3 separate regions of the Homo sapiens genome follow, and all the other regions are linked to region 2. Evidence: fine-mapped expression QTL. A gene starts in region 2. Each other region holds a variant in brackets. All regions are shown on one strand. Distances are between the middles of the regions. Region 1 overlaps FBXW8 (F-box and WD repeat domain containing 8). Region 2 holds the start of HRK (harakiri, BCL2 interacting protein). Region 3 overlaps RNFT2 (ring finger protein, transmembrane 2).

Evidence for each region. PIP is the estimated chance that this variant, and not a neighbour inherited with it, causes the effect. A credible set is the group of variants that fine-mapping cannot tell apart.
Region 1: its variant is the best candidate, but not a certain one, in a credible set for the expression of HRK in whole blood (TOPMed, PIP 0.51).
Region 3: its variant is the best candidate, but not a certain one, in a credible set for the expression of HRK in whole blood (INTERVAL, PIP 0.64).

Annotation. Positions count from the first base shown.
Region 1 is chr12:116,943,740-116,953,962 of GRCh38, reverse strand. FBXW8 (F-box and WD repeat domain containing 8) reads right to left here. Exons shown (of 11, transcript NM_153348.3): 3 at 8,435-8,599; 4 at 4,257-4,345. Among named protein-coding and RNA genes, the nearest start is that of FBXW8, 38 kb to the right of the region's middle. The variant C/T (reference allele first, on the strand shown) is at 5,938.
Region 2 is chr12:116,876,611-116,886,833 of GRCh38, reverse strand. HRK (harakiri, BCL2 interacting protein) reads left to right here and starts at 5,393. Exons shown (of 2, transcript NM_003806.4): 1 at 5,393-5,858. The coding sequence starts at 5,527. The coding sequence ends at 5,802. RefSeq lists an enhancer at 4,239-5,200 and silencers at 5,706-5,785, 6,664-6,864.
Region 3 is chr12:116,843,331-116,853,553 of GRCh38, reverse strand. It overlaps RNFT2 (ring finger protein, transmembrane 2), which reads right to left. Exons shown (of 11, transcript NM_001382266.1): 11 at 1-4,240. The coding sequence ends at 4,106. Among named protein-coding and RNA genes, the nearest start is that of HRK, 33 kb to the left of the region's middle. The variant T/C (reference allele first, on the strand shown) is at 4,980.

The DNA.
Region 1 (10,223 bases), 67 kb before region 2:
TTTGTATTTTTAGTAGAGATGGGGTTTCACCATGTTGGCCAGGCTGGTCTTGAACTCCTGACCTCATGATCTGCCCGCCTAGGCCTCCCAAAGTGCTGGGATTACAGGCGTGAGCCACCATGCCCGGCTGGTTTTGTTTTTCTTGTTTTTTGTTTGTTTGTTTTGTTTTGTTTTTTTGTCTTTTTTTTTTGAGATGGAGTCTTGCTCTGTCGCCCAGGCTGGAGTGCAGTGGCGCGATCTTGGCTCACTGCAAGCTCCACCTCCTGGGTTCACGCCATTCTCCTGCCTCAGCCTCCTGAGTAGCTGGGACTACAGGCACTCGCCACCATGCCCGGATAATTTTTTTGTATTTTTTAGTGGAGACAGGGTTTCACCGTGTTAGCCAGGATGGTCTCGATCTCCTGACCTTGTGATCCGCCCGCCTCGGCCTCCCAAAGTGCTGGGATTACAGGCGTGAGCCACCGCGCCCAGCCGGCTGCTTTTGTTTTTAAATAGACACATGCCACAAAAGAAAAACCAAAATGATGCTATAATAGCCAAAGCTTCAGAGCAGCAAATGAGGGCTGGAAACGGCAGCCTCACCAGCCAGCCCTGCCTGTGGATGCTGCAGAAACACAGCGGAGCGGCTCCACTCACGCACACCCAGCCTGGCCCTGAGCCTCTGCCACCTCAAGCAAGATGAGGGTCTTGGAACGCATCATCTCTAAAGTTCCTTCCAGGTTTAAAAATGTATGATTCTAAACTGAGAAAACTAAGAAAGTAGAGAACAGACATAGGCATTTCTCTAGTTTCCCATATAACATCATATATAGGTGGCAGGGGACAAGGGGAGTCTGTGTATTAAGTTTTAATGCTTACTCCATATAAAACAGTATACATTTAACAAAATATTACATACCACTCATGGTTTTAAAAGATGCTTACAGGCCGGGTGCAGTGGCTCACGCCTGTAATCCCAGCACTTTGGGAGGCTGAGGTGGGCTGATTTCTTGAAGCCAGGGGTTTGAGACCAGCCTGGCCAACATGGTGAAACCCCATCTCTACTAAAAATACAAAAATTAGCTGGGTGTGGTGGCACACGCCCGTAGTCCCAGCTACTCGGGAGGCTGAAGCAGGAGAATCGCTTGAACCTGGGAGGTGGAGGTTGCAGTGAGCTGAGATCACACCACTGCACTCCAGCCTGGGCGACAGAGTGAGACTGTGTCTCAAAACAATAAAAATTTAAATGTAAATTTTAAAAAGATGCTTACAAATTGCTGGAAAGAAAATACAGTAGATGGCTGTAAAGTTAAATATTATTTCTAAGTAAAATAATAATATAAAACAAAAAATGTTTCAGTGAAACAGCAAGGCCACACGATGAGTTGCCCTGTCAGCTGTAGATGGTCCCGTCTCTAGGAGTTCCGAGAAGAATGGACGCTAGGCTACAGTGCTAGAGAAATCTCTGGGAGGAGACAGGACTGGAGTAGGCCTTAAAGAATGGGTTCTGGGTTTCCAGTTGATGAAAATGTTCTGGAATTAGATAGTGGTGTTGGTTGCACAACCTTGTAAATCTACTAAGAAAAAATCACTGAATTGTACACTTTGAAAGAGTGAATTTTATGGCATATGAATTATACAGTCGTGTCACTAAACGACAGGGTTACACTCAGAAAAATGCATCCTTTGGTGAATTTATCATTTGTGCAAACATCACAGAGTGTTCTTACACAAACCCAGGTGGCAGAGCCTACTATACACCTAGGGTACATGAATGGCCAATGTCATATATGGGGCCCATCATTGACTAAAACGCTGTTATGCAGCATATGACTGTATCTTAACTAAAAAAATGATGCAGTCAGAGGTAACTAAATAGAACAGTGTGGAAAAAACAAAGGTACACTTGAAAAGTGTAATAAGGAAAAAGGTAGCTTGGAAAGAAATGTCAAAGAGCTTTGAATGTCAGGAAAAGTTAACTAGAAATTATTTGTAAGACTGTAGAGTAAGCAAAGACTCACGGACAAAAGAGTGAACAATCAAATGCTTTGGAAAGAATGTTTCCCCACTGGAAAAACAAGCCTCAGGGAGACAGGCACCAGGTCCTGTTCACATGATGGGTATTTGAGTGTCAAATGCGTTTATCAACGAGTGACTATTTTCAGATTTCACTGGTTTTATGTGAAAAGGAGAGTAGGGAAGAACCATGACTGGGTCCATCATGAGGTTCACTGCAATAAATATCAGTCTGGGCCTATGCAGCATGGCCCCAAACTAGGAATATTTACATAGAGAGCTGAAAAGGTGAGAAGAAGAGATTCTGCTCTCCATCAATGATGTGAAATGTACTTAATAGGTGTAAATGCAAAAATGCTTCATAGTTTAGCTCTAGGTACATAAAACTAAGCCTCTGAACAGACTCCACTTGTGCAAAAGAAAGAGAAAAGGGAAGGAAAAAAGAAGAATAAGAGAAACACGAGGTAAGTACAAGAGAAAGAAGGGGTGAGTTGGCCACTGTCTCTTTAAGAAGCTCCTTGGAGATACATAACTGTAGAAAGCCTGGTGAATTCAACATTGATTGGGAATGAGGTAACCACAAACACCGCTGTCTCAAATGAAAAGGGATTCAAGATCTGACCCAGAAAACAAGCATCGTAACCACCAGATAAAATTTTAATGATAAACACAAGATGCTCTACATACAAGCAAGACTGAAGTCTCTCATGCTAAGCCATCAACGTAAGGTTTTCTTAGAAAGAGGAGCCACCAGGAGCCTCTCGACCCACAGATCAAGTTTCATCCTATCGATCCACAGAACGTGGCCATCGTGCTCTGTGCTGGCATAATCTGTAATGTTGAACAGACCCCGAGGGAACAGAGAGGCAGAGAGAGAAGGACTGGCATCTGGACTCGTAGGGGGCCTGCCCTTCGGGAGCTCCAGAGAAGAAATTCATAATTGGCTTTGAGAGTCAAGGCTCTCCTTTATTTTTAAGTTCTTTTGCGACTCTTTCAGTCCAGTCTCAGCCTTCTGTCCTCAAGTGTCTTCTGACACTCTAGGCAGAGATCCCTTTAAGCTGGAATGATCTAAGTACCTTCCGGAGTTCACACCAAACTGTAGCATCCGTGGGTAGAAAGGAGCTGCATATCAGTTGATCGCAGGCCCACATTTTAGCAACGAGCATCGATAACTTAATGGACAGAATCGCAAGTATCTGGACCATCAACCTTTCTAAAACTAGTTCTGCAGCACTCCCAAGAAGGGCTTTCACCTCTAAATCATAGCCAGTGAAACAGAAACTGAAGAAAAGCCTGCCTCCTGGGTACATCTTGTTTAAAGCAGAAATACTTTTTTTCATAGGCACTGCATGCCACAAAATATTAAAATAATCCGACTGTGTGGAATTTCTATTCAAAAGGTGCTCTTTAAGGAATGCTGCTTAAAGAAAGATTTTTCTTTAAAGAAAAGGACTCCTCTACTACTGAGTTTTAAAGTCCAAGGTTTGTTTTATTTTCCCATAGGCAGGAAGTTCCCTAAGGCGTCTCACTCCATAGCTGATCCAAACTAAGAAATTTAAGTGTTCTGCTTTCTACTTTATGGCATTAAGTATACAGTCTGAGGCTGTAGTTCATGACATCTTCCTAATCCAAAAAGAAAACTGATCTTATTGTAGAGTAAATAAATATATAAATGTACCTCTGTAACAAAGTAGGAAGACTTCATCAAAGTGGTTTTTGGGACAGAAGCTGAAGGAATTTACAGAAGCTAAAATTAAATGTGTTGGCCATGGAGAAAAAAAAAAACAATGTCAGGACAACTTAAGTAACAAATAGGTACTATATGGTGGGGAAGGAAGATTATGTGTGGCCAAAGCCCTTCTTCACAATAAGGGATTTAGAAAAAGAGAATGAGAACAGGGCCTGTCTGTGCCAACACTTATTATCTTTGCTTGACTTTTTTATGTCTTCATAAAATACAAACTGTTTGCCTTAATGAAAATCTCACATAACATGCCACAAGAGTGATTTAAAAGCTGGGAAAGACATATTGAGACAAATGGATCACAGATCCGCTCTACACCATGTGCTTCTCACCCTTGCTGCGCGCTCTCACGTCCTTGGGAACAGAATCACGGAGACTCTCCCTCTTCCACATGGGCTGTAACTGAGGGAGGTACATGCTCTCAAAGGAAGCTAAGGTCACTGGTACTCAGAGGGTGGTATGAGAAAAATGAAAGACCTTCAGATGCAGAGCACTCAGTGGAAACGGTTTGGCTTACCCCGCAATGACCACACCATCGTGAGAATGCACATCACACAAAACTGTGTCAGGAACATGCTCCAGCTCGCTCACGGCACCTTTGCGATTCTGCGTGAGGAAAAGGGGGATGCAGTTTAGACTGCTCTCGGGACAGCCCGAAAGCCAAGCATCGTGCTTTTTCACCTACTTTCCACAGCAATTCTCTACAGCATGGACAACAAGTGCATTCAAAGTTCCATGGGCATTCAAAAAGACAAAGATGATGACTAACATGCTAAGCTGTTAAGCATGGGCGAGTTACCATATATCCCAAAGGCACTGAACTCGAGGACACAGGACGTGTGAGACATTGCCCCATCCTCCAGGAGGTTACAGAATAGAAAGCAAATATGTGCTCACCAATAACTACCATCCACAATAGGCTGGCATGTATCTGCTGGGAGTGGCAAGTATCTAAAGAAACTTATAAAGTATGTGAAAAAGTTCCGTTCAGCAAAAAGAAAGTATTACATGATACCTTACCTGTTAATTCTTATAAGGACTCTCAGAATAAAATGCAAAATTATATACAAATAGATAAAGATCAGGATGAGGAAAAGGAGATGAGATGATACTATTTCTAACTGAGAGGCCAGAGGTTTCATGGAAATGGTATTTGAATGACAGTCTAGGCCAGGCACAGTGGCTCATGCCTGTAATCCCAGCACTTTGGGAGGCAGAGGCAGGAAGATCACTTGAGCTCAGAAGTTTTGAGACCAGCCTGTGCAACACAGGGAGACCCCATCTCTGCAAAAAATTTAAAAGACAGTCAGGTGTGGTGGCATGCACCTGTAGTCCCAACTATTTGAGAGGATGAGGCAGGAGGATCACTTGAGTCCAGGAACTTAAGGCTACAGTGAGTTATGATTGCAACACTGTACTTCAGCCTGGGCAAGAGAGTGAGAACCTATCTCTAAAAAAATAAAAAATTAAATTGAATTAAAATGAAGGGAATCTGAATGCACATAAAGTATTTACATGTGGGAGGTTGGGAAAAGTGAGATAGGCCACAAAGCAAGCATGAATAAAGGTATTCAAGAATACCATAATTTCAACTTTACCAGACTGGGACAAAGACTAGAAACAGTGTAAGTGCCCAGCACAGTTCTTAACATACAGCAAGTGTTCAATAAGTGGTAGCCATTATTATTATTATTTCTATTATTAGGAAAAAGATGACATCATTCCATTAAAATACACATTTATTAAGTACCTAGACTCTAGAAACTGAGCAAAGTAATTTGCATGATGGTCTTAACTTAATCCAAGGAATGAGTCTAAGGCTGAGAGATAAAACTAGACACATCCACGTGGAGCTGTCCTACAAGTGGAGATATGGGGAGGGAAGGCAAGGATCTGGGAGTCAGCTGTGTGAAGGCCGCAACCAAGGTTACAATAACAGAAAATCTCTTGTGAGGGAAAAAGTATTGAAAGAAAAATAGAGGGCCTAAGATGAAAACCTGCATTTATGCAAACACTAGGAAAAAAAACACTATGGCCACCACAATTAGTTTAGCAAATCATTTCCAGGTTGGCTCTGAAATGCAATTCCAGATAACTTCATGCATTTGCAGGCCATTCTCTTTGTGGAGGTACCTGAGAACCCTGGGGTCCCTTCTAGGGTCTCCCCAGACACTGACTTAAGAGGTACCAAACCAAAT[C/T]GCCTGCCTAACCCATCCTGAAGTCGAGCACGCACAGCACAGAACCCTGCATCTGTGTGCAGAGGCCTATGCTCTCCTACAGCCAACCTCGCCTGAGCACTGAGCGTGGACCAGGCTCTGCAGGAGTGGCAGACACTTGATGACGATCATCCTCACCATGACGCCATGAGCAGTGCCACTCCTAGCCCCTACTCTAGAGATGAGAAAATGGAGGCAGACAAAAGTAAAGCAACTTGCCCCAACACTGCCTTTCATTTCTTTCTTTCTTTTCTTTTTTTTTTTTTTTTTTGAGACAGTCTCGCTCTGTCGCCCAGGCTGGAGTGCAATGGCGCAATCTTGGCTCACTGCAACCTCCACCTCCAGGGTTCAGGCGATTCTCCAATCTCAGCCTCCCAGTAGCTGGGACTACAGGTGTGTGCCACCACGCCCGGCTAATTTTCGTATTTTTAGTAGAGATGGGGTTTCACCATATTGGCCATGGAACTCCTAACCTCAAGTGATCCATCCGCCTCAGCCTCCCAAAGTGCTGGGATTACAGGAGTGACCCACGGTGCCGGGCCGCCTTTCATGTTTTGATAAGGCTTTCTTTCATTCCAGAATTTTGGTAAGAATCCCACCATTACATTTAATGAAAGATACATCATTTAAAATTTCACTCCTAGAATTCTCCTTGTTAACACTGTCAGGAAATGGACCTTACACGCTCCAAATAGAAGTCTCCCTCATGTTTGGTTCAGCCTGCAGTCCGCTCCAGTTCACTCAATCAACAGCCATGTAGTGAGTACTTACCTAACACATGACTTCCTGTTCATTAGAAATAAATACTAAATAGACATTCAGCTAGATTGTATATAACTTGTAAAGTGTTACTAAGTGCCAAATGCTAGGTGATGGGTCTTTAAAATATCGTCACTTCTGCCACCTCCAGGCCCAACAAGGACATACCTGTCCTCTTCCCTTGCTTTCTCTATCACCAAAGAGGAAGCAAAAAACACAGCTGCTGCTTTTCTCTACCACGGTCTGACATCTTCGAATTCAAGCCTGGGGATGCCAAATATCTCCAACTCTCCTGCTTGTAAATCTCAAAAGTATCTCTCCTTTCTGGAGAGAAAGGACCCCGTTAACATTCAGCTCTCAAGCTTTCCTTAAATCGCAGCCCCTCCCACCAGGGTTAGACCCTCTGCTTTCTGACCCCTTGTTTATCTGGGCAGCTTTCTTTGTCATACCTTTCTGCCTGTGTGCATCACATGGACCTACCCAGGCACACGGGCAAGAGGGACTGGGGGCTCCCTCCAGACGAGTTTATTACCGTAGGTGGATGGAAAAGGGCACTGTGGGGCCAGCGTGACCTGTCTTAGTGGTGGTGTCTTAACAGCCTAAGAAAGGATAGCCACACTAACTCTCAGAACAGTGGTTCTCGACTGGGAGGGGATTTTGATTCCCAGGGGACATCCAGCAATGTCTAGGGGCATTTCTAGTTGTCATGACTTGGGGGAGGAAGAGAATGCTACTGGCGTCTAATGGGGAGAGGCCAGAGATACTGCTCAACAGCCTGCAATGCACAGGACAGCCCCGCACAAAACGAATTAGCTGGCCCCAAATGTCACTAGTGCTGGGGTTGAGAACCCCTGAACTAGAGAGACACTGCTCTTATTGACTTTGCTAGAAACCGTGTGAGGTTGCCCAGATCAAGCGTATTGGTCACTAATCAGGTTAGGAGGTGAGTAGGGACAGACAGGCACATAGGCAATTTGTCATTATCAGTAATGCACAAAAGCTTGTTAATCTCAAAGTCTATTAGGATTGACCTTTATGGGAGTAAAGAGAATGGTTCCATCCCTTCTCTACCATTGAATCTCCAGCCTCCCAGGTGAGAAAGAAACACTGCCACCACACTGCTGTCTCGTCATGCCTCAAACAGCTTTATGTAACACGGCTCTTGACAGTTATCTCCTATGGAAACACTTCACTGTGCAAATTCTTAGCTGTGATCTAATATTTCCGTAGAGACTTTGAAGTGATAAATGTTATGGAAGCACGCCAATAGGTTATGTGAGGGAAGAGAAGACAGTGCTTAGAGATGTTTAATCATCTCCCTCTTACATTTACTAGAAATGACATTTTCAGCTCCTCTTTTGTATGCAGGTAGTGCTTTTGCTTTCTGGGTCCCTCCAGAGAGTCGGTGAAAGTCAAAGGGGCTGCACAGAGCACTCCTCTGACCACCCTAACAATCCGAGAGGAAGTGGCTGGCAACCCAATCTCACCCTTCCTCTCCTGCAGAATAAGAGGATGTTCCCAAATCTTGAGGCTGAAAACAGAGGCAGATCATCTAATGGTGAACAAAATGGGCAACAAGTCACCAACAGCTGAAGGGGAGGCTCAGTGTACCCCTCTCCCTTCGCTGTTGGCAATTAATCTCAGGCTATGAGTGAAAGCTTGGATTCCCATGTCCTTGCAGGCTATTCTTTCACAGGTAATGATATTGGCCACTGCCCACCTTCCAGTTGGTTCGTAACATGTGTTCCTTGGCTCGGCACTCTTGGAAGATGAGCTTCCAGCAAGAATAGTCAGAGATGCTGCTATCCGGAAGGTGCCCTTCCTGCTGGCACAGCCTGTACCACAGCACCTCATCCTCTGCAATCACCTTCCACGTCTTGCTCACCTAAAACAGCAGAAGTGACACAAATGTCAAATTCTGCAATTAGAGAAGCCCCTTGTCATCCAAAAATCAATCAACACCTATATTATTGCCCTGGGTTTATGGCAGTATAAAATGTCTCATTAACAAAACACTATGAGGTGGAAAAAAAAATACAAGCAAATGTTTCCAGTTTTATCTTTCAAGATTTCAAAATTGTTGTACCACCATGTAATATCACATTTTAGACTACTTGGTTATATTGTAATCTAACAAATAAGAGAAGAAAATACACAAATACATAAAATGCAAAAAATATAAACTTTTACATGGTAATTAGCTATACAATCATACAGAGCTTTTCAGAATGGAATCTCTTTACTTTTGACAAAAAGCATTTGTATTTCCACCTTACAGAATTGAAGATTGATGGCCTCCAAAATCAAAGGCTGTCATAAAATTACCTATAACCCAAACATCTGGTCAGGTAAAAAATTCAAATTTAAATTGCATGTGAGAATTTAGATTTTAAACATATGTATATATTTAATTAACAGAAAACTCAAGCCATTATCCAGGACTGTAAGATTAGATCTAGAAAAATTAATGTTATGTCTGGCCTGACTTTCAAATCCCAACAGTATCCAGAGGAAATGGCCATTTTAACTATTAGCATTTTGTTTTCCAACACTAATTTAGGGGAACAAAAGGTTTACTTAATCACAGGATCATGTGCAAAGTTGGCCAGACTGCAAAAGATGGACTCTGTTGGCAGATGAGAAACTGATCGAGCAGATCAGCGTGATCCCGGTCTGCACAGCATTCTGGGAATGCAGGATCAAGTGCCTGATGCTTGCCATCCATCCAAAAGTTGAGTCTCACTTCTAATGAAGAGTGGTAGCGGGTAGGTTACAGTACCCTGTACTCTTTAACACTCCCTTAGGGCCACTTCAAGACTCAAAGACAGAGACGGAAAGAAGGAAAATGAGAGAAAGTAGGAGACCAGATTCTTACTGCACAAAGGGCCTCAGCTGATAAAGCACTGACAGAGAGTTAGTTTGCAGGATGGCAGATTAAAGACCTCCAAAGACCTGCTCCTCCATAACAGCAGTAAGAATTCCACCAAAAATGATCGATCAACTTTTTCGGAGTCTGGAAATTAACAAAAGGATTGCAACATTCTGAGGAACATTTATCCAAGAAAAGTGGCTAAATCTCAGTAAGAACAGTGACGTCTAAGTTGTTTTAATGTGTGCTAATTCTGTTTCCTCTTCCAGCTCCAGGATTGCCTTAAAAATCAACAACCTCGTGAAGATAGCAGCTGTAAAAACCGGCAGCCTAGCAGCCATTAGAGAGGCCAGACAAGTTTAGAGGTCCCCAAAAATCAAATCCCCAGAGAACTGTCACCATTTGACCTGGCTGGCAGCTTGCCAGAAAGCTCTATTCTCAAGGCTTGTCTTTATCTGAGCTGGCTGAGCACTGTCTCTGTCCTATCTCCAGGGCATTTACCCAAAATAGTAAGTGGCAACTGCTTAACTCTACAGCTGCCTGAGGAGGCACTGCTAGCTGGGGCTGTTAGAGGCTGACCAAAAAGCTTGAAAGAAAAAGCTTGGAAATGGGATGTCCATAGGAGGCTCTGAAAGGCTCC
Region 2 (10,223 bases):
GGGCATGGCGGAGCACACCTGTAATTCCAGCTACTCGGGCGGCTGAGGCAGGAGGATCACTTGAACCTGGGAGGCAGAGGTTGCAGGGAGCTGAGATCACGCCAGTGCACTGGAGCCTGGACAACAGAGTGAGACTCCATCTCAAAAAAAAAAAAAAAAAAAAAAGGAAGCGAGAGACAAATCAGGATGCTTACTATTTGTTCATTCATTCATTGAGTCTTTACTTCTTTTTTTTTAATTTTTTTTTTTTTTGAGACAGAGTCTTACTCTATTCCCCAGGCTGGAGCGAAGTGGTGCAATCTCAGCTCACTGCAACCTCAGCCTCCCAGGTTCAAGCAATCCTCGTGCCTCAGCCTCCTGAGTAGCTGGGAGTACAGGCGCGTACCACCACACTCGGCTAATTTTTTGTATTTTTAGTAGAGATAGGGTTTTGCCATGTTGCCCAGGCTGGTCTCGAACTCCTGAGCTCAGGCAATCTGCCCACCTCAGCCTCCCAAAGTGCTAGGATTACAGGTGTAAGCCACTGAGTCCGGCCTGAGTCTATATTTCAAAAAAAGTTTGAGTGCCTGCTGTGTGCCTGGTTTTAAGCCGGGAGACCACAGGAAACATTCATGGACTAGAAAGCCTTTCCCATTTCTTTACTTCATGAGAAAGAGGTTGCATTTTTTGCAACTGGTAGAAAAGTTTTCCCTGTATGATGAACTGGAGTTCCACAAACTGTTTTCCAAAATAATCTCCTAAAACTCTTCCTCCCTTAAAGATCTCCAACAGGACACCAATGAGGAAGAAGAGGAACAGGCAGGGGCCGGGTACTGTGGCTCACGCCTGTAATCCCAGCACTTTGGAAGGCTGAGGCGGGTAGATCACAAGGTCAGGAGTTCGAGACTAGCCTGGTCAAGATGGTGAAACCCCGTGTCTACTAAAAATACAAAAATTAGCCAGGTGCAGTGGTGGGCACCTGTAATCCCAGATACTTGGGAGGCTGAGGAAGGAGAATCGCTTGAACATGGGAGGCTGAGGTTGCAGTGACCTGAGATTGCATCACTGCTTTCCAGCCTGGGAGACAGAGCAAGACTCCGTCTCAAAAAAAAAAAAAGAAAAAAAAAAGAGGAACAGGCAAACAGTCCTAGAACCCATCCTTCCCAAGAACACAGAAAAATGTCCTCACATGTGCCCCACAGTAAAAGCAGCCAGAGTCTGGTGAAATATCTGCTTCTAGCTTCCTGTTTAGGATGTTGTTCCTCTCTATATTTGTTTGCTAGGGGTGCCATAGCAACATGCCACAGTCTCAGGGGCTTAAACAACAAAAATTTATTTTCTCACAGTTCTAGAGGCTGGAAGTTCAAGTTCAATGAGTTGACAGGGTTGGTTCCTTTTTTTTTTTTTTTTTTTGAGACTGGGCCTCACTCCTCATTCTGTCACCCAGGATGGAACACAATGGCATGATCTCGGCTCACTGCAGCCTTGATTTCCTGGGCTCAAGCAATCCTTCCACCTCAGCCGCCTGAGTAGCTGGGAACCACAGGAGCACACCACCATGCCAGCTATTTTTTTTTTTTTGTAGAGACAGGGTTTCACCATGTTGCCCAGGCTAGTCTTGAACTCCTGTGCTCAAGCAATCTACCCGCCTGGGTCTCCCAAAGTGCTGGGATTACAGGTGTGAGCCACCAGGCCCGGGCAGGGTTAGTTCCTTCTGAGGGCTGTGAAGGAAAGACCTGTTCTAGGTTCTCTCCTTGGCTGGTAGATGCCTTCTTCCTCTGTCTTCACATGGTCTTCCTTCTGTGTGTCTGTGTCTGTGTCCTAATTTCCTCTTCTTATGAGGACACCAGTCATAATGGATTCAGGTCCATCCTAATGACCTCATTTTAACTTAATTACTTAAAGATGCTATCTCCAAATATAGCCACATTTTGAAGTTCCAGGGGTTATCAATTTGGGGTGGAGCGGTGGCAGGGGGGACAGAATTCATCCCACTACAGCCTCCCTCCCTCTTCCCAAGTCCCCAGTAACCATTTGTCACCCTAATTCTAAAGGGCTCAAACTCTGGGGCGTGGCAGGTGTGTGACTTTGGATGAGTTACTTAACCCCTCTGCCTTGGTTTATGCATACATAACGTTGGGCTAACAATAGTATCTGTCTCATAGGGTTATTAGGGGAATTAAAGGAGTTATGTGTCTAGAGAACTTAGAACAGCACCTGGCACAGAGCGAGCACTATATAAGTGCTTATTAAGTTAAACATTGAAATCGACAACTCATTTTTACTAAACTGTTAGGAGAAGCTTGGCACGGTGGTGCACGCCTCTAGTTCTAGCCACTCGAGAGGCTGCGGTGGGAGGATTACTTGAGCCCAGGAGTTCAAGACCAGCCTAGGCAACATAGCAAGACCCAAAAAAATCTCTAAAAGTTTTTTTAAAATTAGCCAGGTGTGGTGGTGTGTGTCTGTGGTCCCAGCTACTCCAGAGCTGAGGTGGGAGGATTGCTTGAGCCCAGGAGCTGGAGGTTGCAGTGAGTTATGATCTCATCACTGCACTCCAACCTGGGCCACAGAGAGAAACACCATTTAAAAAAAAAATTTTTTTTAATAAAAATTAAGACAATTTAAAAAGTGCTAGGAGACATGTTACCCTCCCAAAGAATTTGCTTTCTTTGAGCAATGCTTAATATCAGCAATGGAATCACCAATTCACAATAGGGGAACTATATATATTTGAGGGTGTGGATCCCCAACATTCTTCAAAGTACACTATTTGACAACTACATGATCCACTCTAAAATATTAACAGTAGTCAACATTTATTAAATGCTAGTGATGGGACCGGGCATGGTGGCTCATGCCTGTAATCCCAGCACTTTGGGAAGCCAAGGCAGGAGGATCACTGAAGGTTAGGAGTTCGAGACGAGCGTGGCCGACATGGCAAAACCCCATTTCTACTAAAAATACAAAAATAAGCTGGGCGTGGTGGCGGGTGTCTGTACTCCCAGCTACTGGGGAGGCCAAGGCGGGAGAATCGCTTGAACCTGGAGGTGGAGGTTGCTGTGAGCCAAGATCGTGCCACTGCACTCCAGCCTGGTGACAGAGCAAGACTCTGTCTAAAAAACAAACAAACAAACAAACAAAAAACAAAAAACCTAATGATGGGCCAGGAGGCACTGTGCTAAGTAAGGGCTTTCCTGGTATTTAGGCTGGGAGGTGGGTACTATTATTATTCCCACTTTACAGTTGAGAGAATGGAGGCTCCAAAAAGCCACCTCTCAAGGCCATGCTCCCCAGTTAGTAAGTGGTCCAATAGCACAGGATAACTCATGTGTGCAAATTAAGGACTGCCAGACTTAAGAGTGTCAGGGAGAGAGAGGTCCTTCCTTCTCTCCCACTTTTTCATCACCCCCTTCTCTTCCCCCTCTGCTGAACGTTGCATCCCCACGGCCAAGATTGCACCCCCTCTTCTACAGACAACATCCAAGCTGCTGGGACCCGACCCAGCGCCACCTTGCGAGCCCAGCATTTCGAGGGGCAGGCTTCCAAACAGGGTAATAATCGTCCCATTAAAATTAATGTCCATGAAGTGAGCCGTTAAAAGCGTGCAGATTAAAAATGGGGGGAGGGAATTGTTCAATTTAAATCCAAAGGGCTTTTTAAATAGACACTGTGTCTTCATTCTTGGAACGCTACACCCGGGCAATGGATCAGGTCCCCTCTGTAAAGACTAGGGGGATTAAGGAGGTGAGTCCCAGGAGAATGGGAAGTGGTTCTGGCGAGAAGCAAAGGGAACCAAGGTCTATCCAGGGCCCACTGCGTGCCAGGTGCTTGGCACACATTTCTCTCATTTAATCTCTGCCCCAATCCTGGGATGGAGGTATTATTATTCCCAGATTACAGGGGGCAGTATAAAACCGTGGTTAAGAGCTTAGAGCCTGCGGCATACTGCCCTAGTTCAGATGACGGTTTCATTCTTAGCTACTCTGTGAGCTAGGGCAAGAACCCTTACCTACCTGTGCCTCAGCTTCCTCATCTTTGAAATATTATAGTAATTGCATGTAGAATTGTTGGGAGATTTACCTTTAGGCAGCAGAGGCAAGGGCGCCCAAAGCCCACAGGTGCCAGACATAGAAGATGCGCAGTAGGTCTTGGCCATTATGAAGCCTAGAATAATTGGAGCTGGGTGAGGGAAAAGGCCACCAGAATCACACAGTGTTGTGGGCTTTGAGCCCTGACTTTGTTGTCATTTCACCACGCTGTGGGCCAAAAGGGACATTTCTCCTCCTGATCAATTCAGACCAAAACTAAGTTCACAGACTCGAAGAATCTTGGTTATACTCTGCGGTGGGAAGGCAAGAACGGAAGCTCCCTCAGCAGGTTCCAGACTCCCAACTTGGAGCCATCTCTGGACTCATCCCGATGGTCTGAATCCCAAAGTTGTCTGAATCCCAGTCGATTTAAGATCACAGGTTTCATTCTCCCCCACAGAATCCTGACAGCCGCCCAGCCCATCTGAACCTTCACCGTTTGTGACAACTGCAGACGCTCCAGTCTGGAGGTGCACAGGAGTGGCTGTCGGATTGGAAAAGGGGGAATTAAAGTCCCCCGCGCCCCTCCTCTCGCCGACCCCTTAGGGTCTCCACTGCGCATTAAATCGGGGTCATCGCAGAAAACTGTAACGCCATCAGGAAAATAATGTTCACAAAGAAAGCAGACAAGAAGTTTCCCTTTAGAAAGCCCCTTGCGAGGGTCTTTTGGGTGCGGGTGCCGGGCAGCGAGAATGCCTCCGTCCGCGCCCCACGCGAGCTCAGGTGGGCCCATCCAGCCTCCCACCGGGCGCTGGGGGCACTTTAGGGTCAGGTTTCTAGCCAGGCGCTGGGGGCACGTTAGGGTCAGGCTGAAAGCCTACAGGTGCCAAGTCAGACCTGAAACGAGGCAAGTTGGGTGTAATCTGACCCTTCCATAAGATTTTGAATCCACCCACCTCCCCCAAACAAAACAACAGCCTCGGAATATTTTTGAATAATGCAGCCGAATTCAGCATCAGCTTCATCCAAAACGGCAAACAAGCCTTTTTCCCTCGCCAAATCGGAACTCGAGCTGAATTCAGGAAAAGGGGAAGGAGAACAACCTTCCCTCGCGCTCCGCGCCTCCGCGGGGGTCCCCCGAGACCCCCAAAGCCCAGGACCTCCGCTGCGGGGAGCCTTCTCGCGCCGCCCCGCGCCGCGCTCCCCGTCTCCCAAACCTCGCGCTCCCTAGCTGCCGGCGCCGCTAGGGTTAAAAGTTACCTCTCGGTTTCTTCTGCCTGCAGCCCCCCCCCCAACCCCCGGGGGCCGGATGATGTAACCCCCCTCCCCGCCCCCCTCCACCATGTGACACTTTAATTAATAATAGCGCCGTCAGCACAACAAACGCACAACACAAGGAGAAACTTGGTGTCCAGGGGAGGCCCCCGGCGGCTGGAGCGCGGCGGCAGCGGGCGCAGAGGCCGGAGGGAGAGGAGGCGAGGGGCGGCCCGAGCGCGGGGCGGGAGCGAGGCCAGCGGTCATGTGCCCGTGCCCCCTGCACCGCGGCCGCGGCCCCCCGGCCGTGTGCGCCTGCAGCGCGGGTCGCCTGGGGCTGCGCTCGTCCGCCGCGCAGCTCACCGCCGCCCGGCTCAAGGCGCTAGGCGACGAGCTGCACCAGCGCACCATGTGGCGGCGCCGCGCGCGGAGCCGGAGGGCGCCGGCGCCCGGCGCGCTCCCCACCTACTGGCCTTGGCTGTGCGCGGCCGCGCAGGTGGCGGCGCTGGCGGCCTGGCTGCTCGGCAGGCGGAACTTGTAGGAACGCGGGGCTTCTTGGTGGGGCCGGAGCCGAGACCCAGCCGGAGCGAGCAACAGGTACGCGAGCGAGCGAGCGAGAGCCGGGGCGCGGCAGCTGGGCACTGGAGACGCTGGGCTGGCCCGGGAGCGGGAGAGTGGCAAGTTTGGCTTTCTTCTTTTCCCTTCTCCTTCTTCCTCCGTTCTCTTCTCTTGCAAGCATCTCCACCTCTCCTCTTCTACCCAGTCCCCAGTCTTCCCTTCCAAGTGTAAGGTCCACCGTTTCTGCCCCCATCTCTGCGAGTCCTTAAGCGCATCTTGCTACTCACTTATAGCTCAGTGGCTTGCGGAGGACTTCAGCCTCCATAATCCCCACCAGCCCCACAAATAAACACACAATGCAAGTAAAAAGTGTGCTTGCTATGGGAATGTAGTTGTAAGCCACGCCAAATACTTAAAATCTATCGCACTTCCAAGAAAGGTCCCCGGTCCCGTTCCAATCCTCTTGCCGTTCCTGAGTCGCCCCCGTCTCCATCACCTTTGCTCCCAACCTCTTGTCCCTAAGTGTCACTTCTCCAATCTCTGATCCCCATTATCTGGCACCCCAAGCGCATCTCGAGACTTCCTCCCCCTCCAGGTTTCTGGCTGGCCCAATCTTTCTTCCCAAGCTCCGCGCATTTGCAATTTTCCTCTGCCCTGCCAACTTCGCTCCTTCTCGAGTGAGGTGTCCTGTTTAAGGAGTTTGGCTTCCTTCTCCCCAGACGGTTGTAGCTGCTACGGGAAGGAGACGCCCTCGGAGTGGGCTGGAATAGGGGGCTTTCAGGGAAACTCCAATGGGAAGCCTTAAGGAAGGAACATTTATTGAGCTCCTTCGGGGTGCTGGGCACTGTTTAGGGAGGTCATGTGTTGAGAACTTAGGACAGGAAGTGGGTACTGAGCACCTAGTGTGGTTGGTATCAGTGGGAGGAAGGTACTAGGCTCTTGGGGTGGGGGGATCATTGTGCCCTAGCTGTGCGCCTGGCACTGTGCTAGGCGCTTTGAGGAAGCACACAGCGTAAGCATCGTCTTACTACTCTGGATCCTGGAGTAGCGAGGAGCGCTGCAGAGAATGAGGGAGAGAGAATCAGGCTGAGCCCACCATAGATGGGTCTAGGGCCGGAAGGTGAAGCTCGAAGGTGACATAGCCAGCCGCCCTTAGGTCCCCGCCCCCGAGCCCCGCCGCGCGCCGCAGACACCCTGGGAAGTTGGAGCGGCGCCTGAAGGCGAGGCCCGAGCGTCTGCGCCCGCGGGGAAAGGCGGCAGCCGGAGCGTGGGGGGTGGCAGCGCCCAGGGAGCTGCGGGGGTGCGCGGGGTGTGAGCCGGGACCGCAGGCGACAGATGTCGCGTGGGCCCGCGCAGCCCGGGCGCTGGCGAAGAGAAATGCGCGCTTCGGGGCGCTCTCTGCCCGGCTCCCGGGCGCCGGGGGTCCCATCCACTTCTCCCTACCTTCTCTCTCTCCTGTTGGAGAGGCCAGGGGCTCCCGCGACTGAAAGGGGCCAGGCTGAGGCTGCCCAATCCCAGGGACAGGAAGAACATTTTGGATGGATCGCGGGGTGCAGAAAAAGGAAGTTGAGCGACAGACGCGAAGCCCAAAGCGTGGAATTTGGGAAGAGGCAGAAAAAAAGTGGGCGAAGAGGAAGAGAAAAAACAAGCGACGAGATGGGGAGGGACAAGAAGTTTGGGGAGGATAGAGAAAAAGAGAAACTGCCTGGAAAACAAGTTGCAAGACAATTGAAAAGTGAATGAGAAGGAAAGAGAGGAAGGTAGTAAAATCAAATAGAACTGTGGAGAGAGGGCTGGGACACGGCTTTCTCTGGTTCTGTCGTCCAGGAGATTGGAAACGCTCTCCCCTTCCGGCACCAGGCGTGCGGGATGTCGGGTGCCCCTCCCGGGAGGCCGAGGACTCCGGGCCGGAGCCTGACTGTGTGTTCCTGTTTGCCGGTGTGTGAGTGTCGGGGTGGGAATGCTCCCGGGGCCTGGAAGGGGAGGCTGCGGGCGGGGCGGGCAGATTGCGCCGCTCTGCGCCGGAGCGCAGGGGAGGAGTTGGGTAACTGGGGCCTGCGCTGCAGGGGAGGGCGGCGGCCAGGAGTTTCGCTGTTTTGAGTCGGTGTTGGGGGGCAGCAGCAGGTTATTGTCTCTGTGGAGTTTATTTCCCCCGCCCCGCCCTCGCCTTCTACCCCAGAGTTACTTCCGTGCTGCGCCCTGACTCGGAGACACCCTCTTCCCACACCTCTGGGTTCTTCTCCTACCTGCCTTGTCCCGCCCGGGCGTCCCCTGCAGCCACACCCTCCAGGGTTCTGCAGCCTCTGGCGCCCTGACCTCAGGATGCCCCGCTCGGCTTCCCAGCAGCACCGCCCCTCATACCCTCGGGACACCCGTAGAATTGCTCACCACCCGCCTTCCTGCGCTCCCAGGCCGGGTTCTCAGTGCTCGGGCTCCCTGCACTGGCCCTGATCAAGTTCTCTCCCTGCAGCCTACATCTGACCTCAGAATACCAGCCGCTCCGGCCTTTCTTGTGCTTTTGATTTAATTTGGGGAAACTCATTTTTTCCCAGCTCTGGTAAGTTAAGTAAAGGGGAAAGAAAAATCACCGGAGGAAGACAGTCTGTTGCGTTCTATGCTGGATATGGGGTGCTCTCCACCTTCCCTACCCTAAAAGAAAAAGGGGAATGTTCACAGCTGTACCTTAGGTGTTTGAGGGAGGCCTGTGCCAGCCATATAGGGTGGGAACTACCACTTTCAATTCCCATAGGTTTAAAGGGTGTGCTCCGCTATATGCAGAATCAATATTTTCAACATACAGGCCAGGCAGGTTGGCTCACGCCTGTAATTCCAGCACTTTGGGAGGCCAAGGCAGGTGGATCACCTGAGGTCAGGAGTTTGAGACCAGCATGGCCAACATGGTGAAACCCCATCTCTACTAAAAATACAAAAATTAGCTGAGCGTGGTGGTGCACACCTGTAATCCCAGCTACTCGGGAGGCTGAGGCAGGAGAATCGCTTGAACCTGGGAGGCGGAGGTTACAGTCAGCCAAGAAGAGCTGAGATCACACCACTGCACTCCAGCCTGGGCGACAGAGCGAGACTCCATCTCAATAATAATTTAAAACATATATGTGTATATACACATACATATATCCAGCATACTTGTTTTGAGTCTCTACTGCGAACCAGCAATACTTTTCTCAGAAGTCATCCTTTAAAAAAATAACAAACAGAAACAAAAACCCAAGACTAAGTTTTCCCATATGTAAAATGGGGGCAAAAAATGGGGGCCCACCAGCCAGACTTAGTGCATAGGCACGTTATTAAGGGGGTTAAATGAATTCATACACGGAAAGCTCTAGAACAGTGGATATACATGTGAGCCATCATGATTATTATTGTGCATTTACTATCATTCTTTCCCAAGGTAGTCAACATTTTACCATTATTATTGCTGGCCATTCCACACCACTCCTACCTGCCCTCCCGGGAAGTCAGTGCCAGAAGGGTCAGGAGAGAATAATGGTTAAGAGACTCTTAAGTGTCCAGCCATTTGCTGACAGCGTGACCTTGAGAAAGAACCATTACCTCTGCACCTTTATCTGTAAACTGGAGCTGTATCCTTCCAGGGTTATTGGGAGAATGATAAGAGAACATTCATTTAAAGTGTCCAGTGCAGGCCGGGCCAGTGGTTCAGTCCTGTAATCCCAGTTCTTTGGGAGGCCAAGGTGGGCGGATCACTTGAGCCCAGGAGTTCAAGACCAGCCTGGGCAACATGGTGAAACCTTGTCTGTACCAAAAAAAAAAAAAAAAAATTAGCTGGGCATGGTGGTGTGCACCTGTAGTCTCAGGTACTCAGGAGGCTGAGGTGGGAGGATCACTTGAGTCCCAGAGGCAGAGGTTGCAGTAAGCTGAGATCGCACTATTGCACTCCAGCCTAGGCGACAAAGTGAGACTCTTGTCTCAAAAAAGTCCAGTGCAGTGTCTGTCTCTTAACTTCACTCAACAGAGGATGTCATGAAATGGTCAGTGTCATTCCTTTTAATTCAAAGGGGAAGCCGAGGCAGAGAGCATCCACCTAAGTGATCCCCAGTGGAACTGCAGCTTCTGTCTTTGAGGGCACACAGCGCCCCCCACCCCATGACTTGCGGGGGAAGAGGAGATAGGGGCAGTAAGCAGACCGGGTTGGTGCACAGTGAATTCCTGTACAAGTGAAATTCCCTTTCTTCCAGAGCCCCAGGGGAGGCTCCTCTGAGGCTGGGGAGGCCTGGAGGAGGATGGGTATGATTTAACCAGTCAATACTCAAAGATACAGGAGAGAGGGAACAAAAGACGCTTTATGGTGAGTGCTGGCTGGCGGAGGCGTGGGAGGGAGGGAGGGAGAAGCGTGCCTGGGGAGGGGGCAGGGAGGGAGAGAGAATG
Region 3 (10,223 bases), 33 kb after region 2:
CAGCAGAAGTCCTAAAAGATTCCAGGACCCACTTTATTTACCTCTCTTTCTTCTAATCCCGAGTCTCAGCAGCCCGGATGTCTTCCTAACACTCTGCACATCATTCTTCTCTTCCGAAGCTGATGCACCTATCATATCTGTGTCCAAAGCTTGCCTTTCTTATTCCCTCACATTTATTATTCTCAAGATATTTTACATGAAGAGGTCCATTTCTAAGGACTTCGTGGAACTTGAGTCAGTGAATCATAAAATAATAAGGGCAGGATACTGTGAACCTGATACTCGATTAACCCTACTTACAACAAATGAGTTGCAGAACCAAGATACATAAAAGAGAGTGGCATTGTTCTTTTCCAACGGGGACTCCTGGCTGCTTTCGCACTGGTATAGGGGAATTCATGTAGCCTGTGTTGGAAACACTCCTCATCAGACACTGTTTTCCCTAGGACAGAAGTTAAATCCCCCCACCGAGAAGAAAACCTCAGATGGGACGTTCCCCCAGAGGGTAGGGCATGCACTAATAAAATCCTAAACTAAACCATCCCATCTGCCCCTGTGTGTCCCCCACATGTTACATTCTTTACAGTGTTAACAGGCATGGCTCACTCTTTGCAGTGTTAGAGAATTTTGTTTTATTGTTTTGGTGGCATGGGCATAATTGGAGAAACCATTGGGGTATTCACTAGTAACCTACATTGTTAGTTTCCTTGGTTCCAGCAGGTAATACACTGGGTTCCGTCACCCTGGAGATGGCTACAGGGAGGCTGAGTGACTTCCCAAAGTAATAAAGAGTTTGGAATCAGAATTCCAGGTCTGACTCCCAGCAGACTGTTCTATTTCCTTACACACCTGCACTTTCATCAATCTTCTCCAGCTCCAATTTCTTGTGCCCCTTCAACAGCATCTGCAGGCAGGATGATCTTTCCGATAAAAACCAGTTGCAGAAGTTCCTGTTGCTTCCCTTTGGTTTTTCCTCAGGGTAGGGAGAACAGAGCAGCTGCATTCACATGGCCCCATTTCCCTCTGCTTCCCCTTCCCACTTGATTATTCAGGCAAGTGGGATTGTAACATCATGGCCATCGCCATAGTAACGGAGCTTGAAAGATGCTACACTGCCCTGGAACAGACGTCTTGCTGGGTACCAGGAGAGAGCCAGGGATGCCAAGCCAAGGGGAAAGTCCTGGTTTGGTGGCACACAGGGGCAAATGTCCTGAATCTACGGCGGGGCAGGGGGAAGGGGACATGTTAATACTGGCTGACAGCGAGGTGGCTACAAAGCTCCTCCATTTCTCCTGGGGCTTGCATGGTAATCTGCCCACTAGCCACACAGATTGCTTTCTCTGTAATGCCATTGGCGCCAGCCTGTTGTGCTGAGGTTGACAATAAGAGAACAGACTTGGGAGGAGGAATAGGGCAGGCAAGATTCTGGTGGCTTCTGCGTGGTCACCTGTGCCATCTCATGCCAGATTTCAGAGCAGGGAACATTTCAGAGGTGGAGAAGTGGCTCTGTCATAGAGATCACAGAAGCACAGATGGTTACGGTGCTCCATGCCACTACCCTGGTTGGTGGAAACATCCATAACATAGGTTGTCCTGTTTGCTCTGAAGGCTACCAGAGGGGATGGCAATGTCCACAGGAGCTGCTGACAGGCCTGAGACTTAAGTGAGGGAGATGACAGAATAGGAAGAGGAGAAAGACATAAAGACAGGAGACCAAGGGGTAACCACATCTGGGCCAAAGCTGACCTTTCTTTCTTTCCTTCCTTCCTTCCTTCCTCCCTCCCTCCCTTCTTTCTTTCTTTTTTTTTTTAGACAGAGTCTCACTCACTCTGTCACCCAGGTTGGAGTGCTGTGGTGCAATCTCGGCTCACTGCAACTTTCACCTCCCGAGTTCAAGCAGTTCTCCCTGCCTTAGCCTCCTGAGTAGCTGGGATTACAGGCACCCGCCACCGCGCCCGGCTAATTTTTGTATTTTTTAGTAAAGAGGGGGTTTTGCCATGTTGGCCAGGCTAGTCTTGAACTCTTGACCTCAGGTGACCCGCCTGCTTCAGCCTCCCAAAATGCTGGCACTACAGGCATGGGCCACCACACCCGGCCTCTCGTGTGCTTTTAGAAGACCGTGTCTGCTGGGCCCCATGCCTGGAATGTCTGAGGGGCAGAGCAGTGCGGAGGTTAAGAGTGCGGGCTCTGCTGGGGATAGCGGAGTGTGCCTGTAGTTGCAGCTGCTTGGGAGGCTGAGGAGGGAGGATCACTTGAGCCCAGGAGTTTGAATCTAGCCTGGACAACCTGGATTTTTATTAGAAACCTCATCTCTAATAAATTTATTTTTTTTTAGATGTGGGTTCTGAAACTGTACCAGGCCTCTGTTGGAAACTTGGCCCGCCCATGCTGGCTGGGTGACCCTGGGAAAGTTACCGCACCAAGCTCTGTGCCCAAGTTTCCTCATCTATAAAACAGGGGACCCAACAGTACCTCCCCCATCACAGGGCTGTTGTGAGGATGACAGCACGTAATCCAAGCAGGATGCTGCATGCTTTGCCTGCTGCGCATGAAGTATTTGGGACCTTAAGTCATTACAGGTATATGGTGGGGCCCAACAACTGTATTTTGAAAATACTTTGGGCCAGGTGTGGTGGCTCATGCCTGTAATCCCAGCACTCTGGGAGGCTGAGGCAGGTGGATCACTTGAGGTCAGGAGTTTGAGGCCAGCCTGGCCAACGTGGTGAAACCCCATCTCTACTAAAAATACAAAAAAAAAATTAGCTGGGCATGGTGGCACGCATCTGTTGTCCCAACTACTCGGGAGGCTGAGGCAGGAGAATCACTTGAACCCGGGAGGCGGAGGTTGCAGTGAGCCAAGATCGTGCTATTGCACTCCAGCCTGGGCAACAGAGCAAGACTCTGTCTCACAACAACAAAAAAAAAAAAAAAAAGAAAAGAAAAGAAAAAATACTTCACAGGGCTCACAGGGATTCTAATCTGCAGGCCTGGGCTATCTGGGAGGCAGTGATCTCTAGGCTCCTCCCCAGCCTGCACCATCAAGTCCTAGGTACTAGGTACTAAGTTAAAATAACCAGCAGGTGGGCTGGGCACAGGGGCTCATACCTGTAATTCCAGCACTCAGCACTTTGCGAGGCCAGGACAGGAGGATTGCTTGAGCCCAGGAGTTTGAGAACACCCTGGACAACATAATAAGTCCTCGCCTCTACTAAAAATTAAAAAAAAAAAAAAATTAGCCAGGCCTGGTGGCACACACCTGTAGTCCCAGCTACTTGGGAGGCTGAGGCGGGAGGATGGCTTGGGCCCAGGAGTTCAAGGTTGCAGTGAGCTGTGATTGTGCCAACTGCACTCCAGCCTGGGTGAAGACCCAGACCCTGTCTCAAAAAAAAAAAAAAAAAAAAAAAAGTGAGCCTGGGCACGGTGGCTCATGCCTGTAATCCCAGCACTTCGTGAGGCTGAGGCGAGCTGATCATTTGAGGTCAAGAGTTGGAGACCAGCCTGGCCAACATGGCAAAACCCTGTCTCTACTAAAAAATACAAAAATTAGCCAAGTGTGTTGGTGGGTGCCTGTAATCCCAGCTACTCGGGAGGCTGAGGCAGGAGAATCGCTTGAACCCAGGAGGTGGAGGTTGCAGCGAGCCGAGATTGTGCCACTGCACTCCAGCCTGGGTGATAGAGCGAGACCTTGTTTTAAAAAAAAAAAAAAAAGGAAGGAAGGAAGGAAGGAGGGAGGGAGGGAAACAGAGAGAGAGAGAAAGAAAAGAAAAGAAAAAAGAAAGAGAAAATAACCAACAAGTGGGAACTTCATGTATTGCCAGGTCCTTGACTTGGAGTGGAGAAGGAAGATGCATCTAGAAGGGCATCAAGTCTGAGTTAGGAAGACGTCCCCTTTTGCAGGGGAAGGAGGCACGCACTATACCACAGAACGAGAGAGGAAGATGAAGGTCAGAAGGACAAGACAGGGGCGGGACTTTGGGGTCAGAGGTGGTGGAGGGCAAGAGGCAGGATGTAAGTGCTTGAGGCCTGTTTCTCAGGAAGCCCCCGCAGGGCTGGGTCCGGGCATGCTGACCCTTGGCGTCCTTCTGGGTGTCCTCAGTGTTCGGTCCTAGTACACCTGGAAGTGTGCGGACGTGGCGCCGTCCTTCCAGCAGCGCAGGGTGTCCACGGCGACCGAGCGGCAGAGCGGGCAGGTGCGCTCACGGTCCAGCCACAGGCAGAGGCACTCCTCACAGAACACGTGCTGCGGGGACAGCAATCAGCAGGCACCAGGACTCTTTACTGAGCGTCTGCCTCGGTCTCGGGAGCAGGAGAAGGGGCAGCGGACTAGACAGACAACCCCTGCCTTCGGGGCGCCTGCACTCGCGTTGGGGAGACAATGCGACTCCAAAATACTGAGTTATCAGTAGGAAGCACCAAGATGAAACAGCAGGGGAGGGGACAGGTGTGGTGGCTCAGGACTGTAATCCCAGCACTTTGGGAGGCCGAGATGGGCGGATCACCTGAGGCAGGAGTTTGAGACCACCCTGGCCAACATGGTGAAAACCAGTCTCTACTAAAAAATACAAAAATTAGCCGGGCGTGGTGGTGGGCGCCTGTAGTCCCAGCTACTCGGGAGGCTGAGGCAAGAGAATCGTTTGAACCCGGAGGCAGAGGTTGCAGTGAGCTGAGTTTGTGCCACTGCACTCCAGCCTAGGTGACAGAGCAAGAATCTGTCTAAAAACAAAAAAACAAAAAACAAACAAACAAAAAGCAGGAGGGAGAAGGAACAGGGAGGGCTTGGGCGGGTTGGGACGTTAAGGACAACTTTACGGAGATACTGACATTTGGGTAAAACTTGCAGGACAGTGAGGAGTGAGCCCTGATGAGATCTTGGGGAAAAGCACTTCTAGCAGCAACAGCAATGTGCAAAGGCCCTGAGGCTGGACTGTGTTTGATGTGCGGGAGGAACAGGAAGGAGAGGATAGCTGGGCTGGGGTTGT[T/C]GGGGTGGATGGGAGAGGGAGATGAGGTCACAGAAGTGATGGAGGGTGAGGGGTGCATATGGTGTAGGTACTTGTGGGCCATTGTGAGGTCTTTGGCTCTTATTCTGAGAGAAGTAAGGGGCCCATGGTAGGGCTTGGAGCAGAGGAGTGACCTGATATGATTTGCAGTTTAAAGCGATCCCTCCGCCTTCTAGGTTGAGAATAGAACACAAGGGTCAAGAGGAAAGGCAGGTAACTAGTGCTACGATAAACAGATACATGCACGCATACGTTCACTGCAGCACTATTCACAATAGCAAAGACATGGAATCAACCCAAATGCTTATCAATGATAGACTGGATAGAGAAAATGTGGTACATATACACCATGGAATACTATGCAGCCATAAAAAGGAACGAGATCATGTCCTTTGCAGGGACATGGGTGGAGCTGGAAGCCATTATCCTCAGCAAACTAACACAGGAACAGAAAACCAAACACCACATGTTCTCACTCATAAATCAGAGCTGAACAATGAGAACACATGGATACAGGGAGGGGAACAACATACTGGGGCCTGTTGCGGGGGCTGGGGGAGGGAGAACATCAGGATAAATTGCTAATGCATGTGGGGCTTAATACCTAGGTGATGGGTTGATAGGTGCAGCAAACCACCATGGCACACGTTTACCTATGTAACAAACCTGTATATCCTGCACATGCATCCTGGAACTTAAAATTAAATTAAATTTTTTAAAAAAGAGAGAGGGCCAGGCGCGGTGGCTCACACCTGTAATCCCAGCAGTTTGGGAGGCTGAGGTGGGCGGATCACCCGAGGTCAGGAGTTTGAGACCAGCCTGACCAACATGGAGAAACCCCATCTCTACTAAAAATACAAAATTAGCCAGGCGTGGTGGTACATGCCTGTAATCCCAGCTACTCGGGAAGCTGAGGCAGGAGAATCACTTGAACCCTGGAGGCAGAGGTTGCGGTGAGCTGAGATCGTGCCATTGTGTTCCAGCCTGGGCAACGAGAGCAAAACTCTGCCTCAAAAAAAAAAAAGAGAGAGAGAGAGAAAGGCAGGGAGATTGGAAAGACCAATGGGTTCCACCGTTCTCTGGCTGTATAACTTGGACAAGTAATGCAACCTGTCTGTGCCTCAGTTCCCCCATCTGTAAAATGGGGATAGAACCCCCTCATTGGAAGATTAATTAACATGTTAAAAGTACTTAGCTATGACAACCAAATGCAGCACATGAGTCTTGATTGGTCCCAGGGGTGGCAAAAAAAATGCCAGCTATAAAGGGCACTTTGAAGGCAACTGGAGACATCTGAATATGTACCATATATTAAATAATATGTCACATTAATTTAAAATTTCCTGGGTGGCCAGGCACAGTGGCTTACACCTGTAATGCTAGCACTTTGGTAGGCTGAGGCGGGGGGATCACTGAGGTCAGGAGTTTCAGACCAGCCTGGCCAACATGGTGAAATCCCGTCTCTACTAAAAATACAAAAATTAGCCAGGCATGGTGGCACACGCCTATAGTCCCAGCTACTTGGAAGGCTAAGGCAGGAGAATCGTTTGAACCCAGGGGGCAGAGGTTGCAGTGAGCCAAGATCGCGCCACTGCACTCCAGCCTGGGCAACAGAGTGAGCTAGATTCCATCTCAAAAAAAAAAAAAAAAAAAAATCCTGGGCATGCTAGTGGAATTGTGATTATCTGAGAGTATGTCCTTGTTCCTGGGAGATGCACACTGAAGTATTTAGGGATGAAGAATCTAAATGTCTACCACTTACTCTTAACTGGTTTAGGGAAAAAAAAATTGATGTCAAAAAAAGGGCAAATGTAAAATGTTAATGATCAGTAAATCTGGATGAAGAATAGAAGAGTTTCATGCAACTTTCCTGCAGGTTTGAAATTTTTCAAAATGAAACATTTGAGGAAATAATAATAAAAAAATCTAAACAAAATGTTTTTTTAAAAGCAAAACCACAAAAAAGAAACTGGGCACAGTGGCTCATGCCTATAACCCCAGCACTTTGGGAGGCGAAGGCAGGAGGATGGCTCGAGGCCAGGAGTTTGAGACCAGCCTGGGCAACATGGCGAGACTTCCTCCACCCCCATGCCCCATATGTCTCTACAAAAAAAAAAAATTAGCTGGGCATGGTGGCATGTGCCGTCCCAGCTACTTGGGAGGCTGAAGTGGTGGGAGGATTGCTTGAGCCCAGGAGGTTGAGGCTGTATGAGCTATGATCATGCCACTTCACTCCAGCCTGGGAGACAGAGTGAGACCTTGTCTAAAAAAATAACAATAATATAAAAAAGAAGGCACTTGGAATAATGACTGGCAAATAGTAAGTGCTCTATAACTATTAGCTATTATGATAGTAATAATGATTATTATCTTATGTGTTTACAGTTTATTATCTGTCTCTCCATACCAGGCTGTAAGCTTCTTGTAAACCCCTTCATTCCTAGCATGGTGTACAGTGGGTGCCTAATTGTAGACAGTGCTCTGAAGGAGATTTCCATGGTATTATGGAGGTGTGTGACAGAGGGACCAGTTTGATCCAAGGGGTAGTCAAGGAAGGTTTCCTGGAGGTGGGGACACTTGAGTCGAAGCCTGAAGAACATTTGGCAGTTAACTGGGCAGAAGAGAGGGGATGGGATAGAGATAGAACATTCCAGGCTGAAGGAAGTCTCCTGTGCAAAGCTCCTGAGATAGGAAGATGTTTGAGGCACTTGAAGATAGCTGATGTGGCTGTAGTTGGGGGTGCAGGGGAGAGAGGGATTGGGGAAAGGAGAGAAGTCCACACAGAGCCGCGAAGACCATACTGGATTCTCATCATGGTCTGGAGGGCAGGACCCAGGGGTCAGCAAGCCCTGCAGCTTCTACAGATTCCCACTATGGCACCCATTACCCTCTATGATGGCCCGTCTCCCGTCCAGCCCCATCCTCACACCCTGGAGTAACTGATGTCATTGACGTGCCACATGACCTTCAACCCATGGCTTATTCACAGCCTTCCAACCAACTTTAGTATCACTCTGGGATGCCCTTTCTCCATCTTGACCAGCTGGGTGCATGCCCAGTTCTTTTGGAAGACTCAGCCAAGCAATCATGTCTCCCCTGTTTTATGATGTTGCCCCGATTCCATCCTGTTACTGTCTCCTGCAAATGTAAGTACTGATCGCGTCTTCTCTCCTATGCCATTCTTCCTGGTGAAAACCCCTCTCAAAGCATTGCATGAGGAATTATTTGCAAATTCATCTGATTGTTCACTAGATTAAGAGCTCTCTCTCTCTCTCTCTCTCTATATATATATATATATTTTTTTTTTTTTTTTGAAACCGGGTCTTGCTCTGTCATCCAGGCTTGAGTGCAGTGGTGCGATCACAGCTCACAGCAGCCTTGATCTCCTGGGCTTGAGTGACCCTCCTGCTTCAATCTCCCAAGTAGCTACAACTATAGGCACGTGCCACCATGCCTGGCTAATTTTTTAATTTTTTTGTGGAAATGGAGTCTCACTTTGTTGCCCAGGCTGGTCTCAAACTCCTGGCTTCATGTGATCCTCCCACCTTGGCCTCTCAAAGTGCTGGGATTATAGGTGTGAGCCACCATGCCCAGCCACTGGATTGAGAGCTTTCTGAGGGCAGAACCTGGTTTTATGCTGAGTACGGTTCTTGCTCAGATGCTCAGTAAATATCTATTGACCAACCAAATGGGACTTAACTATGCTACCCTGGACAAAAGAGGTACTTACATAGGAGAATGCAACACAACCCCTGTTCACATAGACTTGGTTAAGTGAATGGGAAATAGCCATGAAATTTAGCAGTTTTTTCACTCATTCATTCAACACATTCACTGAGGCTCTCACACTTCTAATTTAATAGTTCTCAGATATTCTGGTGCTAAGACCCCTTTATATTTTTTAAAAACACTGAAGACCTCAAAGAGCTTTTGTCTATGTGGTTTAAATTTGTCTATATTTACAAATTTAGAAATATTAGAAATATTTAGAAATAGAAACGGAGACATATTTAAAACATAATGGCCAGGCACGGTAGCTCACGCCTGTAATCCCAACACTTTGGGAGGCCAAGGTGGGCAGATCACGAGGTCAGGAGTTGAAGACCAGCCTGGCCAACATGGCGAAAGCCTGTCTCCACTAAAAATACACAAATCAGCTGGGCATGGTGGCGTGTGCCTGTAATCCCAGCTACTCGGGAGGCTGAGGCAGGAGAATTGCTTGAACCGTGACCTGGGAGGTGGAGGTTGCAGTGAGCTAAGATCGTGCCACTACATTCCAGCCTGGGCTACAGGGTGAGACTCTGTCTGAAAAACAAAATGAAACAAAACAAAAAAAAAACCCATAATACACAAGCACATATTCATGAGCCACCAGAGTGATGACCTCCTCGCAGGCGATGCAGCCTCTGGAAAACTCCACTGTATACTCATGAAAGAACCAGAGTGAAAAGGCCAATAATGTCTTAGTATTATTATATAAATGGTTTTGACCTCACAGACCCCCTGAAAGGAACCCCCAGGGGTACCCTGGCCACACTTTGGGAACCACTGTTCTAAATGCTTAGTCAACATCTGCCCTGCCCTCTAGGTGGTAAACGCCATGAGGGCAGCCATGTTGTTATCGTACTCCTACTGTCCAGCCCTGAGCTGGTACAGAGTAGGGGCTCTGTCAATGGAGAGGACAAATGAATGGGAATGCAGATGACAAATGACCAAACAGGAAAGTCTGGCGATACTAGGGTGATGAAGGACTGGTCCCTGCCCTCCGGGAGCTCACAATCCCTTCCTCAGAGAAATGGGAGGACAGAATCTGGTGTCAAATGAAAAGGTTCAAAAAACCAGGTTTACCCCAGGGCCCAGCTGAGGAGTTCACGGCTGTGGACTGCCTCCAGCATGTGGAGAAAGGGATGAACGTCTACAGAGGAAGGGGGAGGAAGAAGGAGCCCTTTCTCAGCTGGGAAGGATAGGATCGGGTGGATTGATGGGCAGTGGGGAAGGCAGGTGGCCCTGGATTGTTTTTTTGTTTGTTTGTTTCTTGGGGTTTTTTTTTTTTTTTTTTTTTTTGAGACACAGTCACACTCTATCACCTGGGCTGGAGTGCAGTGGTGTGATTAAGGCTCACTGCAGCCTCGACCTTTTGGGGCTCGAGTGATCCTCCCACCTCAGCCTCCTGAGTAGCTCGACTACAGGCAGGCACCATGGCACCCAGCTAATTTTTGTATTTTT